Regions from separate parts of the Homo sapiens genome. Here all the other regions are reported to be linked to region 3. Evidence: microRNA targets listed by miRTarBase, many of them from high-throughput screens and not tested one by one. Region 3 holds a microRNA gene; each other region holds the end of a gene's coding sequence.

What was found. Region 3 holds the annotated microRNA hsa-miR-3907 (AGGUGCUCCAGGCUGGCUCACA, at 2,121-2,142, shown strand). A microRNA usually pairs through its seed, bases 2 to 8, with sites in the 3' UTR of a target mRNA and lowers its output. Matches are read on the target gene's strand: a 7mer-m8 pairs with bases 2 to 8, a 7mer-A1 pairs with bases 2 to 7 and ends in A, and an 8mer does both.
Region 1: the mRNA of BMS1 is a reported target of hsa-miR-3907. Seed matches in the 3' UTR shown: 7mer-A1 at 2,297-2,303.
Region 2: the mRNA of SLC30A5 is a reported target of hsa-miR-3907. Seed matches in the 3' UTR shown: 8mer at 1,987-1,994 and 7mer-A1 at 2,126-2,132.
Region 4: miRTarBase lists FMN1 as a target of hsa-miR-3907. Seed matches in the 3' UTR shown: 7mer-m8 at 1,735-1,741, 7mer-A1 at 2,422-2,428, 7mer-A1 at 4,059-4,065 and 7mer-A1 at 4,566-4,572.

What each region holds. Positions count from the first base shown.
Region 1 is chr10:42,829,790-42,834,681 of GRCh38, reverse strand. It overlaps BMS1 (BMS1 ribosome biogenesis factor), which reads right to left. Exons shown (of 23, transcript NM_014753.4): 22 at 4,260-4,421; 23 at 1-3,816. The coding sequence ends at 3,586. It also overlaps the pseudogene RNU6-885P. Among named protein-coding and RNA genes, the nearest start is that of LINC02623, 39 kb to the left of the region's middle.
Region 2 is chr5:69,128,644-69,133,535 of GRCh38, forward strand. It overlaps SLC30A5 (solute carrier family 30 member 5), which reads left to right. Exons shown (of 16, transcript NM_022902.5): 16 at 804-2,426. The coding sequence ends at 974. Among named protein-coding and RNA genes, the nearest start is that of SNORA50D, 30 kb to the right of the region's middle.
Region 3 is chr7:151,430,776-151,435,667 of GRCh38, reverse strand. MIR3907 (microRNA 3907) reads left to right here and starts at 2,029; the gene lies at 2,029-2,179. All of the region lies in intron 3 of CRYGN (crystallin gamma N), which reads left to right. It overlaps LOC124901780, which reads left to right. Exons shown (of 1, transcript XM_047421163.1): 1 at 1-3,376. The coding sequence starts at 2,211. The coding sequence ends at 3,116. RefSeq lists enhancers at 2,390-2,479, 2,750-2,849.
Region 4 is chr15:32,770,309-32,775,200 of GRCh38, reverse strand. FMN1 (formin 1) reads left to right here. Exons shown (of 21, transcript NM_001277313.2): 21 at 847-4,892. The coding sequence ends at 891. Among named protein-coding and RNA genes, the nearest start is that of GREM1-AS1, 54 kb to the right of the region's middle. RefSeq lists an enhancer at 434-1,633.

The sequences.
Region 1 (4,892 bases), not on the chromosome of region 3:
ATTTTCGATAAGGTACCATCCCCAAATATGAAATGCTAAGTCTCATAATAAAACACCTTTGGCATTTAAATGTCCAACATCTCAACCTTTTGTCTTGTTAAAGGATTATAAAAATGTACAATACTTTAAAACCATGAAATAAACTAGGTAAAACTAAGGAGACACAAGTAAAATACAATGTCCTTGCTGAAGACTCTGAATAATGGCTTTAAGAAATACCTGAGTCTGGCAAAATACTAGATACTAGAAGTCGGTACCAAGGGCAATTAAATCGATGCTCTTTTTCCCATCAGCGAGGTAAGCTCTGGAGCCTCCAGAGAGCTGAATCAGACCCGGTGGCTTTCCTCTTTGCTCAAACATTTATTTCTGAAATGGCGGGCATGTCACCAAATGATAATACTTAAAGCAAGTTCACAGGTTTTGTTAAAAAAAGAAAACAATCTAGTACATCCACAAATAGGAAACCAAACACACCTGAACACATCTATGATTAAATAAGAATATTTAATGGCATGGAATGATATGTACACTGTAGGTTCAATATGTTTTCAAAACATACCTAGCACCTATGGCTGCCTGTGCCTAGTAAATAGAAAAGGTATAACAGAATAATTTTTACAATTTACAAAGTTTAATACAATTGAGAAAGGTTTCTATAAACATTGTTAAAATATTTCAGAGGGCAAATGCTTACTTTGCATAGCAATGCTTCAGTTACCTGGAATGCCCTCCCTTCTTTCTTCCAAGCAATTTTATGCAGCACGAAGCTCAGTGGCTCTACTCCAAGTGCCAACAAGGTGAACAACCCAGTTCCTGCTCTCATGGAACTCACATTCTGGTGGAATTTGTTTTTGCAACATACTTGCTGACAATATCAAATTAATAAGCCATTAGTATTGAAAAGTAATTTACACACTCTCCAGTCTGGTCCTTATTTTGATATATGTCTTCCTATGAGATGGATGCAAACTCACAGCAAAAACTATGTGTATACATACAGCCACATGCCGCATGATGTTCAGTCAAGGATGGACCACGTATATGGCAGTGGTTCCACAATACTGTATTTTTGCTACGCCTTTTCTATGTTTCGATACACAAATGTTTACCACTGTGTTACAACTGCCTACAGTAGTCAGTACAGTCACATGCTGCCCAGGTTTGTAGCCTAGGAGCAACAGGCCATACCATAGAGCCCAGGTGCACAGTAGGCTGTACCATCTAGGTTTGTGTGTCACTCTATGATGTTTACACAATGACAAAATTGCCTAATGATACATTTCTCAGAATATATCCCCATCCTTAACTGATGTGTGACTGTATTTTACTAACCTGGCCAGGTGGAACCTTCACCAATAAAAATTCTACATGAAAAATGCTATTTATTGTTTCTTTCAGACATTAGAGATTCCTTAACTTTAGTTTAAATAATCTTAATATGCAAACTTTTTATTTCCCTTGTTCTCCAAATATGATAAACCAAGATTTTTAATATTAACAGGTATGAGTTCTGCCTACATACATTGTCTTTGGAAAAGGCAATTATCTGCAACTGTAATTAAACATTCTTTTATTTCCCCCATTGCTAAAGGATTCCACTCTTCTGGCTAAAATATAAAACTATACAATTATAAATACTTATTTGCAATGCTTCTCTTTGAACAAATTTGCTTGTTGTATAAGACACTTGCTGATCACCTTGTAAGCTACTTAAAACATGGTATGACTTGAGTGCCTTGTATATTTTAGTTGAATTATAGTTTTGCATTTTAAAATATATCAATTATGCTATATAACAAATTAGTTTTAAATTATAATTGTTATGGGCTTACTATGTGTCAGTCCCCAGGCCTATCAGCATAATGGATGATGAAATTCATAATAGCTCTTGAGGAACAGAGGAAAATGTACACCCAGAGTTGCCCAGAGAGGTCTGGGAGTGTTCCAATTGTCACTTCCCAGGTGGACCTAGCCCTGACAGGATCCTCACATCCTCTTCCCTTCTTATGGAGATACAAAGCTGAGCACCTGCCTACAGACTTTAGGCTTTTAGAGAGCCTCTCAGACTAGGCCAACTGCTCATAATCCTGCCAACCCTCTTTGGCCCCTATGATGTTGTAAAGGCAATGTGGCACTCATATCAGCAGCACACATACTATAACTGGCACAACACAGAGGTCAGCATGGGCCCCATGCACAGATGACACACAAATTCATGAAGTGTTCTACATACATATATGTATAATTTTTTTTTTTTGAAACAGGGTCTTGCCCTGTCGCCCAGGCTGGAGTGCAGTGGTGCTATCATGGCTCACTGCAGCCTCAACCTCCCAAGCTCAAGTGATCCTCCTACCTCAGCCTCCCAAGCAGCTGGAACTACAGGTGTGCACCCACCACACCTGGCGAATTTTTTATTTTTTGTAGCGATGAGGTTTTGCCATGTTGCCCAAGTTGGTCTCAAATTCCTGGGCTCAAGTGATCCTCCTGCCTTAGCATCCCAAAGTGCTGGGATTACAGGCGTGAGTCACTGTGCCCAGCTGCGTTCCATATTTCTACACACCCATGCATACATGGAGGAGTATACGTTGGGGAAAGTAAAGCTGGGGAAATGTGAATAAAATCAGCGGGCTGTATTGATGTCAACATCCTGATTGTTATATGTGTGAAACATTACCACTGAGAGAAATTGGGCAAAATATACAACTATATGTGAATCTATGATTACATCGTATAGGAATAGATTCCCCATAACTATATCAACATACAATCATAAAATACATACATCGCCTATGTAATAGTATGATTACTTCAACATAATGTTTAATTTAAAAAAAGGCAATGTAGCTAGGCAGGTATAACGCATGAGCATAATACGGGAAGCCTATCTCACTGATACATACGATTTCCTTGGTCTCTGCACCTGAGACAATAATCTCCTAAGTCTAAAGCTTTAAAAAAGTACTTACTGTTACCTTGTCACTATACTAATGTGCAGAACATATGAAATAAGATAGAAAATGTCCACAAGGGCCAGTGATCAAAGGAGCCCATAGATCCTGGGTGCACAGTAGGCTGTACCATCTAGGTTTGTGTGTCACTCAAACAAAAAACAAAACAAAAACACTACACACTATTCTCTAAAATCTTCCATGGGAGCTCAGAGTTCAAGTGAATATTTCTTTCTCTTCTGGAAGACTCCTCATGAAGGTGGTAGTATAAATAATTATCCACAAAGAATTGTCAGGCATTCATCCCTAATGAAAACTACTAAGCCAAAAGTAACAAAAAAATATTTTAATGATATTTCTGTAGGACAAAATAATTAAACTGAGGCAGGCAGAGGAAAGTAAGAGAATCCACATAACCACAGCTTACATCACTTTAAATCTCGACAGCCCCAAGTCATGAGAATGAACCCAGTCCCAGCAGCCCAGGCTTCTCTGTTCCTCCTCCTGCAGGCACAGTTTGAGTAGAGACATCTCTTGAGCTCTTTCCCACTGACTTGTCATTCACAGGCATTCAAACTGTGATGTTTGAAACTGTCTACCTCCGCAGATCCAGGGACAGTCCCTCCAGTCCAAAGGCTCACTGCAATTGGCCCTCAGCCCCCTTCAAACTGGACTTCTGGTTTCTTCTTTCCTTCTGCCCCTGAATTCTGAAGAGCTTCTTCCTGAGGTCCTTCTGCCGCTTCAGCTTCTCCTCCTCCTCCTTCTGCTTGGCTCTGAAGTGCTCTTTATTGTGCAGGTGCCGCTGCTCCTTGGCCTTCTTCATCTTCTGACTATGCACCGTACTCAGAGCATCCAGCAGTGCAAGGATCTGACAAGGACAAAAGCCGGTGAGTATCAGAATGCTCTCAGACACCACACACTCGCATCCTAAGCACTAAGACTAGAGGCAACCCACGATCCAAATGAATATTAACTGCATGAAAATGCATCCTGTGCTAGGAAGTCATTGTTGGCATGGAGACACAGGTGTGATCCCATTTTACCTTTACCACCTCTGTTCATCATTCTGTGGACACTGTGTGCAGCTAACCGAGACAGAAGGGTTCCCCAGCCATGTACCTGTTATCCCCCATGAAAAGCACAGGGCAGAGCAGGACCAGGCAAAGAAAGGGAAATGGACTCTGGCTCTTCCTCTGACTTTAGTTCCAGTGCCCTGAATAACTGAGACTACAGTAGAAACAGGAAGTGTGCTATTGAGAGTGTTCTTTTCCTATCTAAACGCAGCGTGCAGTACAGCATGGGCAACAGTACCTTTCTTTCATGAGGCTCGCGTATGACGGCCGGTCTCCGCCTGTCCTTTGGCACCTTGCCTGCCTTTGCTTGGGTCTTGGGCTTGTTCTTAAATGGCAGGGCCTTCTGCAAGGCTTTTGGAATGTGCAGTGAATTAAAATGTTTCTTTTGCCTCAGGATTGGCTGAAAAGAAAAACAAAGACTGTGACATATTCAAATTATGATCAATGTGCATTTAAAACTTCTGCATAAAATCTTCTCAATGGGTTGACTTTTCCACAAGATTAGTAACACCAGAGTCTGCCGGCCCTGAGAAATCAGGACTCAATCATCTGCCAAATATGAACTGCCTCAGTGGACACCCACAATTCTCAGTAAACAGAGGAACAGACAGCTTACACTTACAACTCTCCCCCCAAAACCCACTGTGCCCATTTCTATGGTATGGAACTATGGGGTCTCAACAGAACAGATGAATAGATCCCAGTTTCTTTTCATGGAAATTTCAGGCCTTGTCTTTGGGCCACTGAGGTGCTTATTTCCCAGACTAACAAAAATAATCTAGCTTTTTGTCTTGACTATCAACCACTCTGGATGTTTTTTTTGTTTTGTTTTGTTTTTTTGAGATGGAGTCTTGCCTTGACGCCCAGGCTA
Region 2 (4,892 bases), not on the chromosome of region 3:
AAGTTTTGTGTTTAGAGGATAAGCTTTAATTAATATAAAAAAATTCATTTATGAGTTTGATTAATCTTGGTTTCCAGTAGATTATCAAAAAATAAGTTATTATAAATATATTCCTAAATTAGTAATAATCAACTTGGCAGGGTATATGCTATGTTTGGAGATAGAGGTCAGAATAGTTACTAAAGCCCTGTTCTAGATGTGCCAAATTGGAAACAATGGCTGTTTTCCTTTTCTACTGTGAATGTCAAATCAGTAATTTACTGACCTAAAAGAGTCTAATATTTTAACTAACTAAATGATGAATATTACTTCGAAGATTTATCTTGGACTACTGTAACTGTTTGTTTGTTTGTTTACTCATTCATTTTAGAGACAAGATCTCACTATGTTGCCCAGGCTGGTCTCAAACTCCTGGGCTCAAGCGATCCTCCTGCCTCAGCCTCCCTGGGCCACTGTGCCTGGCCTGTAACTATTTTAAAAATGTGACACAGGTTTAATATTCCTTATCTAAAATGCTTGGAACCAGAAGTGTTTTCGATTTGCGATTTTATTTTTTTTAATACTCGCATTACGCTTACCAGTTGAGCATCCCTAATCTGAAAATCCAAATCCAAAATGCTCCAATGAGCATTTCCTTTTAACACCATCTTGGCACTCAAAAAGTTTCAGATTTTAGAGCGTCTCAGATTTCGTATTTTCAGATTAAAGATACTCAACCCGTATCAACTATGTACAGCATATTAAGACGTGTGTACTAAATGCATTACTCTAAATGCTTCAAAATATCTGGATTTTTATAACAGGTTACAGGAATACTTAAAGATGCTGGAGTAAACAATTTAACAATTCAAGTGGAAAAGGAGGCATACTTTCAACATATGTCTGGCCTAAGTACTGGATTTCATGATGTTCTGGCTATGACAAAACAAATGGAATCCATGAAATACTGCAAAGATGGTACTTACATCATGTGAGATAACTCAAGAATTACCCCTGGAGAATAAACAATGAAGATTAAATGACTCAGTATTTGTAATATTGCCAGAAGGATAAAAATTACACATTAACTGTACAGAAACAGAGTTCCCTACTACTGGATCAAGGAATCTTTCTTGAAGGAAATTTAAATACAGAATGAAACATTAATGGTAAAAGTGGAGTAATTATTTAAATTATGTGTATAAAAGGAATCAAATTTTGAGTAAACATGATGTATTACATCATCTTCAAAAATAGATATGATGGATTCTAGTGAAGACCAAAATTACTTCTGTTTACTTTCTATCAGGAAGCATCTCCATTGTAAATATGTATTTACATGTTTATTACAAAGACCCAAATGAAAAATTTTTAGTCCATTTTTTGCATAGCCTAAAGATAAAATAGGAATAAAAGTTCTATATTTATGGATTTTCTGTATATAAAACTGGTTTCTAATTATAACTTAAGTCCATTAAGTAAAATCTGTATTGCCACTTTAAATGTAAACTAAATTATTTGGGAGAAACTTCAACCACTGATATGAGATAAGCAATGAGAATAGGGAAGTGTATAACATCACAGTTTTTGATGTATTACAAAAATCAACCACTCTATAAAATAAATTTTTTTTACTTTTGGTAATATTTGCAAATGAATAATTAATTTATTAGGGTAAAGAACTTATACTAAGTTGTGTCCATGTTATTCATTTACTTACCATGTTCCTTTAAAGTAGAATATTTCCTTTCTTGTTATATATTTGACATTCCAAGCTGCTTATCAAGCTGGTATCCAAGCAGTGGTAAGCTTTCATCCTTTCTTAGCTCCATAACGTTGTGAAACAGCCAGTTAAGAGAATCGTAAATAATTGTCAACTCACAGTTGAATTCTCTGCCTATGTAGGTAACTTTTTTCTAATTTCTGGAACATATAGATATATAAGAAATATCAAAGAATAGGTAGTTATTTCAAAGTTTAATAAGTAAAACTTGTTCATAAACATTTGAGCACCATGAAATCAAAATACCCTATAACTACTTTCTATAGTCATATCTAATTTATATTTTTTTCATTTCCAGTTGTAACTAGATATGTAGTAAAGTCTGAAAAGACTTTACCATAGACAATAACATGCAGTTTTATCAGCACCAAAGAATGTTGTCCAAAAGAAACTTTTTAATACCTGTCTTTCTATTTATAACATCTGAATATTTTCATTCTTATATTAAGAATTTTGATAAGTAGATTGAATTTAGTATGAGTACTATTTTCTTATATATACCACAATGGCAAACATGTATTATAAATCATATTTTTGTCTTACCAATTTTAATATATGAGGGGTTTTAGAAATTTGTTGTAAGTTATTTTTATATTCCTTGTCTTTTGCATATTTTTTGGCCAAAATCTTCAATACATATTAAAATTTTTGAGTGGTGGGAAAATAATTGCATATTGATGTTTTAATGCAATTTTTATACATTAAAAAATTAAGTAGATAGGTGCAATAAATATTACACCAAAGTTAAAATTGTCATTTCCCTTAGAAGACATATAAACAGCAAAAAAATTAATGTGATTGTGAGATATTAGAGTGAGAGAGAGCAGGGGCTGAAGGTTGGGGAGGTACAATTATAAAGTATGGAAACTCTAATATTGAAAGCACCAGGGTACTGTATTTCAGCTCATGCAAATCATGCAACTAGGCCAGGTGCAGTGTCTCTTGCCTGAAATCCTGGCACTTTGGGAGGCTAAAGCAAAAGGATAGCTTGAGCCCAGGAGTTTGAGAACAGCCTGAGCAACATAGCAAGATTCCATCTCTACAAAAATTTTTAAAAATTAGCTGGGGCATGGTGGCACATACCTCTTGGGAGGCTGAGGCAGGAGGATTGCTTGAACCTAGGAGGCCAAGGCTGCAGTGAGCCATGATGGCACCACTGCTCTCCAGCCTGGGTGACACAGAAAGATTTTATCTCAAAAAAAAAAAAAAAATTCATGCAACTTTAGGCAAATCAGCCTTTCTGAGGTATCTTTTTTTTTTCCTCATATATAAACTATATAAAACCTGCTCAAATTTACAGCACAGGATATGGGAACAAAAGGTATAATGTATGTGAAAATGCAGTGGAAGTTGAAAAAGGCTAAATAGGCCGGGTGCGGTGGCTCACGCCTGTAATCCCAGCACTTTGGGAGGCCGAGGTGGGCGGATCACGAGGTCAGGAGATCGAGACCATCCTGGCTAACATGGTGAAACCCTGTCTCTACTAAAAATGCAAAAAATTAGCCAGATGTGGTGGCAGGCGCCTGTAGTCCCAGCTACTCGGCAGGCTAAGGCAGGAGAATGGCGTTAACCTGGGAGGCGGAGCTGGCAGGCAGCCGAGATAGCACCACTGCACTCTAGCCTGGGTGACAGAGCAAGACTCCATCTCAAAAACAAAAAAGAAAAAGGCTAAATACGAAGAATTGTTACTTTTTAAGCCTGACTTCAAAGGTAGCCGTCATTAACTTGTCTCTTTTTTTCTATAAATTAGCATCTCAAGAGATTAATTAGATGTTTAACATATAAATAAGTTAAAAATAATGCCCAAAATAGAAGCCTGTTTTGAGGGAGGGGAGTTTGGATTTTTTTTTCAGAGACAAGGTCTCACTCTGTTGCCCAGGCTGGAGTGCAATGACATGATCATTGCTCACTGCAGCCTTGAACTCCTGAGCTCAAGCAATCCTCCCACCTCAGCCTCTCCAGTAGGTAGGACTGCAGGTGCACATTACCATGCCCAGCTAATTTATTGTTTGTAGAGACAGGGTCTCACCATGTTGCCCATGCAAGTCTCGGAACTCCTGGGCTCAAGTGATCCTCCCACCTCTTCTTCCCAAAGTATGAGGATTATAGCCATCCTGGCTAACACGGTGAAACCCCATCTCTACTAAAAATACAAAAAATTAGCGGGGCGTGGTGGCGGGCGCCTGTAGTCCCAGCTCCTCGGGAGGCTGAGGCAGGAGAATGGTGTGAACCCGGGAGGCGGAGGTTGCAGTGAGCCGAGATCGTGCCACTGCACTCCAGCCTGGGTGACAGAGTGAGACTCCGTCTCAAAAAAAAAAAAAAAAGAAAGAAAATAATACAATCATTTATGGCTTTTTGTGTTTTATTTATGTTTTTATTTATTAGTTTTTAGAGTCTCGCTCTGTCGCCAGGCTTGAGTGCAGTGGTGCAATCTGGCTCACTGTAACCTCCACCTCCTGGGTTCAAACGATTCTCCTGCCTCAGCCTCCTGAGTAGCTGGGACTACAGGTGCACGCCACTACGCCCAGCTAATTTTTGTATTTTTTTTTTAGTAGAGACAGAGTTTCACCATGTTGGCCAGGATGGTCTCGACCTCGACCTTGTGATCCATCCGCCCACCTCGGCCTCCCAAAGTGTGGGATTACAGGCATCAGCCACCGTGCCCGGCCTGTGTTTTATTTTTAATTATAATTCTTTTCTTCTGTTATAGCAATTTATGGCGTTTTAAACATTCAGTAAATTAACTCATAACAAATACTGAAGGCCTTTATACTAAATACACTGCACTAGGAGCTAGGGATAAAGTCCTCAGTAATACAAAGTCCTGCCCTAATGGAGCTTACTTCTAATGTAGAAGACAAGACCAGTATGTAATAAAATGTAGTAAGTGCTGTGAAGAAAAGCAATAACTTACTGAACTTTTGCCATGTTCCAGATGGACACTGTTCTAAACAATAAATATGTGTAATTATTATTTCCATTTTACTGATGCAGAAACTGAGGCAGGAAAAGGTTAATTAACCTGCCCCAAATCATACACGTTATAAGTGGGAAAGCCAATTTTCTCAACTAGGCACTCTGGATTCAGGGTTGAGACTCAACTAAAGCAGCGTTCAAGGACAGAGTTATA
Region 3 (4,892 bases):
CAAACCCCCACCACCCTGGCCTCTGGGAGGAGATGGACTTCGGGGTGGCTCACTCCTGGACAGAAAGTAGCTGGGGGAATTTTGCCCAGGCCCAGATGGGTTTGTCTGCCCCACACTTGGGTTTCCTCCTGGTCAACCAAGGGCAGCCTGTGTGCCCCCTCCTGCCCTCCCGCACACTCCCCTTTTGCAACTATCCTCTGAGCACCTTCAAGTTGGCCATGTATTTTCATTGTCCAGCCCACACCTCTAGGTCAGGTAGATATTATCGCCCCCGTTCTACAAAGGGCAAGCTGAGACTCAGAAGGCTGACTGCCCGGCCGCCCCGTGGGAGTGGCACAGCTGAGACTGCAGCCAAGCCTGTGTCTGTCCCTGTTCCAGAGCTAGCCGCTTTCCCAGGCCTCAGTCCCCTCCCCTCAGGCCAAGAGCCCCTCACACAGGTTCCAGCTGGCTGTGCATGGTTCTGGCGCCTATCGAAGCAATTGAGGAACAATTTGCCGTCTATACTACAGAGGTTCAAGGCCAGGGAGCTTCGGAGGGGATGCAGGGGGCAGAGGGACTGCAGGGAGACAGAGACTGGGCCGAGGCAGAGCTGGGCACAGGTGGTACCCCATGTCCATGGGCTCCAACCGCACAGCGAAAATATCCCCCCACAATTGTGTCTATGCTGAATATGTACATTATTCCCTGAAAGATACTGTACAACTATTTACATAGCGTTTATGTTGGATTAGGTATCATAAGTAATCTGGAGATGATTTCGAGTCCAGTAAGTCCTCACTTAACATTGTGGATAGGTTCTTGGAAACTGTGACTTTAAGTGAAACAATGTATGGCAGGTCCTCAAATATGTCATCTTGTTCAATGTGGATTCATTATAAAATTGATGAGGGGAGAAATGGCTTTGTTATATATCATGTGCTTAAAGCCACGGTTCCCAAGAACTTACTGACGGTGTTAAGTGAGGACTTACTATATATGGGAGGATACACATGGGTTATATGCAAATACAGTGCCATTTTATATCAGGAACTTGAGCATCCTCGGATTTTGATATCCAAGGGAGGTCCTGGAACCAGTTCCCAGGGATAGGGAGGGACTGTGTACATCCCACCTTTCCCCGGTGGCCTGATGTTGGCCCCCTTCCTGCTGTTTCTGTCACTCTAGCTGGCTCCAGGATTCCGTTTTACGAAATTGCATTTTGCCCTAAATTGGTGGCACCTGGAGCCCAGGGGTGGCATTCCAAAACAAGAATTTGCCCTGGAAAACTTGCTGGCTAAATTGTGTCTTGTAAGGCCCAAGTCATGCCTTTGCGTGGAGGATGTCCTGAGGCCCTAGACACAATCCCCCCGGCCCACCCCCAACGCTCAGGGGCTTGTTGAGAACGAAGGTGGGGAAGGTGGAGGCTAACATTTCTCTGACTGAGGGGCACACAATCCCCACTGTCCCTGAGAGGAGCCAGCCATCGGGACCCCAGGTGGGGGACCCAGGAGCTCAGCCTTTGCCGCCTAAGACTCTTACTCTTACACAAATGTAAGCCCTTGTCAAGGAGGTAACGCCCCCAGGTCCCCTCGATCCGGAGGGGACACTGCTAGGAGGCCTTTCCTGGGGTCGGGGGAGTGGGCAAGGCAGGGTCCCTCCACCACCTCCCACTGCCAAGACTCCTTCCCTCTGGGTCCCACATCAGCCCAGGCATGACCCATCCCCTCAGACCCGTGTCCTGGTGGGCTCTCGGAGGGAAATGCACTGGCGTTCTGCCTCCACCTACCCTCACCTGGGGAAGGGCACGGTGCTGATGTGGGCAGGACAGGCCCCTGCCCTTTCCTCTGTCTGCCTCCTCCCAGTAGCCACAGCCAGGACAGGGGACAGCAGGATGGGTGGTTCCCCGCCCCCTCCTTTTGGGGGTGTCCATGTGAGAACCCTCATGTGGCCCAGGACATGGCTTGGGGCATTTCTTGCCCACCACAGGGTAGGAAAGGACCAGCTGACTCTCTGAGGTGCCTCTGAGGCCCCAGCTGTGGCACAGGTGTGGGGTTGGAAAGCTGTAGGTGTGGAGGGGCATGGATACGGGGGCCATGAGGGTGGGGTCCAGGCTGGACCAGGCCTGCCCTGAGTCCCCCAGCAGGTGCTCCAGGCTGGCTCACACCCTCTGCCTCTCTCTCTTCCTTCCTGGCCCCAACCCTTGAGGCAGCAGACTGTGCCAGGCACCAGGCATGACAAGCCTCACTCGTCTCAGAGATGGTGAGGGAAGGACAGGGTTGGGCCAGCCCCTGCTCCGAGCTGTCCTGAGGTGTCTTCCTTGGACCACATGCCCCTTTCCAGGCAAAGGCCACTATCCTGGACCTCCAGTCCCTTCCTCCTGGTCCCCCGTTCCCTCCCCACCGCACCTTCCTGCTTTTCTGGGCCGGGCCCACAGCTTCCTGGGTGATGAAGAGCTGTGTTCTCTCCTGCCCCCACCAGCCCGAGGTCCTCCAGGCTCTGTAAAGACTTGTCCTGACTGTTTCTGCTCTCTGGGTTGTTGGTGGCTGCCCCAGTGGTGTGCAGAAGGGGAGGAGGACAGGAAGGGGCCCTGCTTGGGACTCCCCAACCCTCCTCTGTGCCCTGCAGGCTCCTCCATGCAACTGCACCCCCACAGCCCATTTCCTCTGCAGGGGAGGCCCCGTGAGGGCAGGAGGGGGCAGGAACCGTGTTGTGTGACCATGGCACCTCTGGTACCTGACACAGTGTTGGGCACACATGTGGGAACCTGCTGGCATTCACTGAATGAACGGTGCCCTCTGTGCCAGGCCCCCCACCAGGTGCTGGGGGTACTGTCTGTGCAAGGTGGTCCTTATCAGGGAACAGGAGTGTGTGGGGCGTGCAGTGATGGCGGGAGTGCATCCTTGCCAAGGATGGCTGAAATGCAGTGGCGCAATCTCGGCTCACTGCAACCTCCGCCTCCCTGGTTCAAGCAATTATCTTGCCTCAGTCTCCCAAGTAGCTGGGATTACAGGTGCCCACCACCACACCCAGCTAATTTTTGTATTTTTAGTAGAGACGGGGTTTCACCACGTTGGCCGGGCTGCTCTCAAACTCCTGACTACAAGAGATCTGCCTGCCTCGGCCTCCCAAAATTCTGAGATTACAGGCGTGAGCCCCCATGCCCGGCCAGGACTGGTCAGTTTTAAAATGTGGACATTACTGGGCCTGTCCCCACACATGTCACACCCCAGCATGGACCCCACAGGGCACTGGGGAAGGCACCGTGGGTGCCTTCGTGTAGCCCAGAGTGAAGGGGCCGCTCGACCGGGAGGGGTTGCTGGGTGGCCAGGCTGTGCAGGCTTTTCTCTCCGGAGTCCCGGGGGACTTCCTGGCAGCCCCTGATCCCCACTCCCCTGGCCTCCAGGTGGGTCCTGTATGAGGAGCCCAACTACCACGGCCGCATGTACGTGGTGGAGAGTGGCGACTTCCGCAGCTTCTCGGACTGGGAGGCCCACAGCGCACGAGTGCAGTCGCTCCACAAGGTGGTCAACTTCTTCCAGCCGAGCCCTCCCACCGGGATGGCCGGGCGCAGCTCTGGGGACAGGGGCAACCCCTTGCGGTCCCACCCAGACCTCGGGACCTTGGGCGATAAAAGTCCTCAAAGCCAACGGGCGGCTTCTGAGTGCTCTCTCGGCAGTGGGCATCCCAGCCCTGGGAGGAGCTGGATGATCCAGGGCGCTTTCCCGGACTCCCAGGGACCCCCTGGGCCAGGGAGGGGAGAGTGGTGGGGAGAGGTGGTGAGAAGCAATGGGGATGGGGCAGGGCCGGAACCCAGGCCGGTTCAGGACTCCCCAGGCTCGCTTGGGGCTCTGCCTCTCTGTGACTCGGCAAGGTGAGGCTGCCAGGCCATGTGGCCAAAGGCCTGACCCAGGGTCTCTGTGTCTGATCTCTGGGTTTTATCCTCATGGCTAATCTTGGCCTCGGAGTTTCTAAGGGAGACCCCTCTGGAAGGATGGTTTCGACCCAGGGCAGACCCCTCTCCTGCGAGAGAGAAAACAGTTAGTGGTGGTGAGTGTCAGGGTGGGGGCTTAGCTTGAACAGGTGGGCTCTGTGGGAATGGAGGGGCTTTCGGGGAGAAAGGGGCATGGGGCGTGTCTGCTGCAGCCATAGCCCCTGGAGCAGTAGGGCTGGCAGACCCAGAACCGGCGGCTCGCGTCTTCAGCTGGTGCAGCACCAAGCGCTCGCCTGTAGAATTCCTCCATTCCTGGGCCCTCTCCAGGACACTGGGTCCTCCTGTTGGGGTGGGCTTGAATCTAGAGGGGACACCCCACCCTTGAGGGGCAGAGGGGAGGGAGAAGTCTGTCCTGGAAGGAGATACTCGGCCCAGGCAGTGGGATTCCTGGGCATAAGAGGTCCACGTCCCCAAAAGCATCCCCCCACTCCCTCCCCACCCACGCCTATGCTTCCAACTCACTGGGGAGAGAGGAAAGGTCCCACGAGGGGAACTCTGGTCCCTGGGGGTGGCCCAGGTAACTCCCTGCTGCCGGCAGCCCTCCAGCAGAGTCCTGAATGGAGCCTGCCTGTGAGGAAACCATAGCCCACCCCAGAAGGAGGCAACAGATGGAGTGCTCTGGGCTTCTGAGGAGAACACAGGGGCCCTGGACCCGAGATTCCTGAGCATGGGGGCTCCTGGACATGGAGACCCCAAAGATGTCCACATGGCCTGTGCCTGGACCAAGGCCTGGCTGGATGAGGGATCAGTGGGGGGCCAGGTGCATGGGTTGGATCACCCGTGTGCCCACAGAGTTCTGGCTGTGGATCTGACTCCTGGTCCAGCCTCTAATCCCCGACTGCGATCCCAGAGTCCCCCCAACCAACTGGCTCCCGACTGGCCTCTCAGTTCCCGGGTCCTCCTCACCATACATCTTACTCCA
Region 4 (4,892 bases), not on the chromosome of region 3:
TCTAGGCCAATTTAGTAATTCACTGCAACATCATATCTCATAGCTCATAAGCAGCTAAGGATCCATTCTCAAAGGCTTCTCTCTGCATCTGCTCATTCCAAAAGAGTATACTTCTCCCTTTTCCATTTTAGCCTTCTATTTACCCTCCTCCCAGAGCAGGCACACCATCCTTACCATACTGATATGTGTGCTTCCCTAGTGTCACAGATACCATGGGGGTCCATGTTTCTGTGTAGTGTGCTCCTGTGTATTCTTACGTCTTCCCAGCAGATGTCCATGTCCTTCCCTTTAGAAGGCAGTCTCTGAGGAGGAAGCTCGGAGAATGAAGAGCATAACATCCATGGCAAATCGGGAACTTCTGCCATTCTGCAGAGACTAAATCTGGTCATCTCCCATTTTGCATGGCTTTTGTTGAGTTCTGCCAAGTTGATCATTGGAAATAGTAATTTTTTTTTTCATATCTTCTTGGGCATTCTCTAATTCCATCAATGAGCCAAAGGTAGGGACGGAAGGGGTCCTTGAGTAACACTACAAAGTTAGGGTCTTTGTCACAAAAGAAGAGAACAGAAAAGACCACCCTGGCATGGTAAAGGCCCGTGTTTTAGATGGATGTAGTTGGTAGATTGGCTGGTTATTGATTTCTTGTTTGTTTTTCTGGGGAGTAAGGGTGATAGGTAGGGAGGGGCAGATAACTAAGAGCTTAGGGAAAGCAGTAGAGGTACTCTCATTTCTAGGCCATTTGGCACAATTCCGGAAACTCAGCATTCTAGACCAAAATTTGAGAAATGTATCAAAACTTGAGAAAGATGAAAGAAAATGATACATTCATTTTTTTTTCCTTAACAGAAAGAAAGACTGCGTCAGAAGGAAGCCAGTGTGACCACTAACTAAGATGAAGACACATGGAAATGATGGCACTGGAGGTGGAGGACCTTGCACGCATACTCTTTGTGACCACAGGGTTGCAGGACGTTCTTGAAAGATGTGTCACTAAATGTTTGTTTTTGCTCATCTCTTTCTGAGGTCATCTGCAGAGAGTGCCCCATGCCTTCTTTAAGAAGTCCCTCATTAAGCCGCAGGAACAATGGAAAACTATTTAAGGGAACATTGCAGAAATATTTGATGACTGTTTCTTGTGGAAGCCCAAAGTCCACTCTAAGAGCAGAAGAAATACCAAAATGTTTCCAAAATTTTTTTAAAAGCTGAGATTTCCAGCTTTATAACCAAAGCTTGATATATGTCACATTGTCACAGAAGAGAGAAAAGATCATTGAGGACAGTTGCCTTGGGAGAGTTCAAGTCTTTGTCGTTACACACTGCTGTTTTGATTATTGGTCTTAGTTTTGATCCTGTTGCAGCAAAATCCTGCAGCATCTTTCTCTCCAATAATGTTGCAACTCACCAAAACTATTCTTGAAGAGGTCCAAGAACATGTATTATCCAGACTAAAAAAATGATTTTTTGTTGTTATGGTTTACGTGATGAAAAGGAGAAAAAACAGAATCATACCTGGGTGGAGAGAGGGAGACAAATAGCCATAAACTTCATCCTGGAGAACAAGTTACCATGCAAGGAGTTGACATCAGTTGTTAAGTGAGGCCCATTCTTGTTTTTACATCGGTCCTTTGTGGTTTTTCTGGGCCAGCAGAGATTCTGCACCCCAACTCCCAGGAGAAAATGTAATACCTGAGCAAGCACAGCCTTGGGTGTGCTTGGACAAGAGACCCAGCGGCAGAGCACCTTTTACATTTTGGACCGTTCATGAATGGGCAATGTTGTGTTGATACGCAGCCGAGTTCTACGTTATGTGCTGTGACTGTGCAGCTGGACGACCCCCATCCCCAGGAGGCAGTTTCCAGACAGGAGAGCAAATGCAACTCACAGCACCTGCTCATGACCTTGGCTGATAGGCATGTGAAGTAGGATGAAGCAGGACTCTTTAATGTCAAAAAAACTGAAGGGCAGAAAAAAGGTTCCTTACATCAAAATGAAAGTAATTACATTAATAGAAAACTTCCAAGTGGAATATTGTTCACAGGCAGCTCTTTCTGACCCTGGCTCTTGAGTCACATAAGGAAACCACCTTTGACCTCTCTGACACTTTTGTCTTTAAGCCACGTCTCTGAAATCTTGTGAGGGGTGAAGAAAGAGGACTGGAGATGAATGGACAATATGATCAAAGACTCATTTTTAGGCCTTGAAGAGGCCGAGCTTTCTCCCCCCAATTGGTGGAGGACAGTCCAGAGATGAGCAGAAATCTTAAATTCCTTCCTGATCCAGCCTCCACATGTGGCCTGCCCCTTGCCCCAGCATCTTTCCAGAACCCCTGGACTTGCCAGGTGCCTGAGCATCTTCCCAGGATATGCCTGCCAGCCAGCAGCCCCTCAGGAATGCTTCTATAATAGATCCAGTAATGAAAGCAGCACCATATCCTAATCTAATGTCAGCTTCGAGAATGAAGACTGCAGTCAGGATCAAATCAAGTCACAGAAGCCATATTCATGCAGGTGCTAACCGCCTTTTCTACTGGTGCAACTGAAAGGAATATGGTAACATGGTTGGATTTTTAAAATTCACAATGAAGGAACGAGACAAGCAAAACAGAAAAGCCGAGAAGGAACATGCATGACTAAAAAGGCTTGAAGTTGCTTGTGAGCAAGAAGCTTTTTATGCTGCTTTCTTACATAGTTTCTCTTCATTTTCACTTAACTCTGAAGACAACCAAAAGAACGGATCAATTAAAAACTGATTCCACTTATAACCATTGTATGCTCCTTCTAGTGTTATCATGCACAAGAAAAGTGCCAGTTTTACCCATGCCATATAATTCAGCTCTTTTGAGTTATGTGGGGCCAGCAGAAGTCTCAATCCTTATAGGCTTGATGGTGAGAGCAGCGGGAGGTTTGAGGTGTACTCATTGCAGTCCACTTTGGTCTGTAAGTAGGATGCTTACGAGAAATCAGTGAAGGTAAGCAGGGCTGCCACTGTGGCCACGTAACCCTTCAGGAACCAGTGCTGAAGAATAATGAGTGAGAACACTTAATTTGAGAGTTAGACAAATACAGCCCACTTTGGATTTCATCCTAGTGAACAGACTAAAACTTTGCAGTAAAATACCTATTTCTACAAAGCAAGGTTTGCCTGCCTCGGTTGGGGAAACCTAGTGGTTTTGTCACACTAGTCGATGTATGATGTTAGTGTTGTAAGACACCATGGCAGAATCTTCATTATTCTCACCTATTCTGAACCCTGCATCATGTATCTGGGATGCCCCCTCCCAAGTCCACCAATGTACCACGTTGCTGACACAGCCTTCATTTTTAACTCAAATTGATGCTCAGTAAAGGTCAATGACAATTTGTTCAAGGAAGTTCATCTAAAATAATCTGGAGGCCTTGAAAATGATCCCTCTAAAATGCTGTTGAGCTTGTGTTCAGTGTAGCAGGAGGATCTGAACTTTTCCTGGAGAGGAGGTGATCGGGATGCCATTTGGCAGCTTAAGCACATCCTGCCAGCAGGCTTTAAGTGGCTGTTCTAGGCATAGCCCTCCCTGAACTAGAAAGGAGAGTAACCAGTTTGCTATGCTGCATCTAACCAGACACACCTGACTTAGTAGTAACTCTAAGAACCCTTAACTTACAAACAACTTTGTCTCCTCTTAGACAATATTCATTAAATCTGAGGACACAGTTTGACAGTAGTTCAGATTCTTGCATGAGCAATTGACAGCATCAGAGCACACAATATCATAAGTTACATAAATTACACAAAGTACATCATAAATTACACTACAGACACGTTAGGTAAAAAGCATCAGGCCCGGGCCGGGCGTGGTGGCTCATGCCTATAATCCCAGCACTTTGGGAGGCCAAGCGGGGGCGGATCACGAGGTCAGGAGATTGAGACCATCCTGGCTAACACGGTGAAACCCCATCTCTACTAAAAATACAAAAAATTAGCCGGGCGTGGTGGTGGGCGCCTGTAGTCCCAGCTACTCGGGAGGCTGAGGCAGGAGAATGGCGTGAACCCAGGAGGTGGAGCTTGCAGCTAGCCGAGATAGCACCACTGCACTCCAGCCTGGGCGACAGTGAGACTCCGTTTCAAAAAAAAAAGCATCAGGCCCATGAAGTATCAAAAACCAGGTTAGGAGGTGTGCTGTATGGCTTTTATCTCAATAAGTGGCAGCTTACTGGGGAAAAAGAAATAAGAAAAAGTGTGGCCAAGCAGAAGTGGATGTTTATGATGACGGTGGGGGCCCAGAGGTCATAGGTGATGGTCCTACTGCCCAACAGTTGCCTTTTGAATCCTTATGTTGATGATGGTGTCTTTCTACACACTCACTGCAACTACTCAGGAATTATAAAGATTTTCTGAAATCTGAGAAGTGGAATAAGGAAACCCAGTGGAGCTATTACACTTTTAAATGTTCTAGCCAAAACAAATTGCCAGTATGGTTGAGGAATTGAATATCAGATGGCATGCAGTCTCCCCTCCCCTCCCCTATCAAGGACAGTAGAAGCTGCAAACCTCTTCTCAGCCTCCTTCAGGCACCTCCTGTTTTCATAAGCACCATGAAGAATGGTGTTTCCTAAATGAAAAGTTCAGATACTGCTGGTAAAGAAACTGGAAAAACTGAAGGAAGGAATAAAATATGTTGGTGGTATTAACACCTCCAGTAAGATAAGTCATTGGTACGGTTTTTCTAAGGGCCGCAGTGAGATGTAGCAGAAGAAATATGTTTATTTTGGGCAAAGATTTGCTTATTGGCCTGGGATTGCACATTTTCTCTATGATGTTTGCAACAGAGAAATTTTCATTTTAATGATACTCTTCCTTTCTTGAAAGTTACATGTCCTCATTTCTGTTTCTGCTTCTCCCTTGGCCAGTGTCAT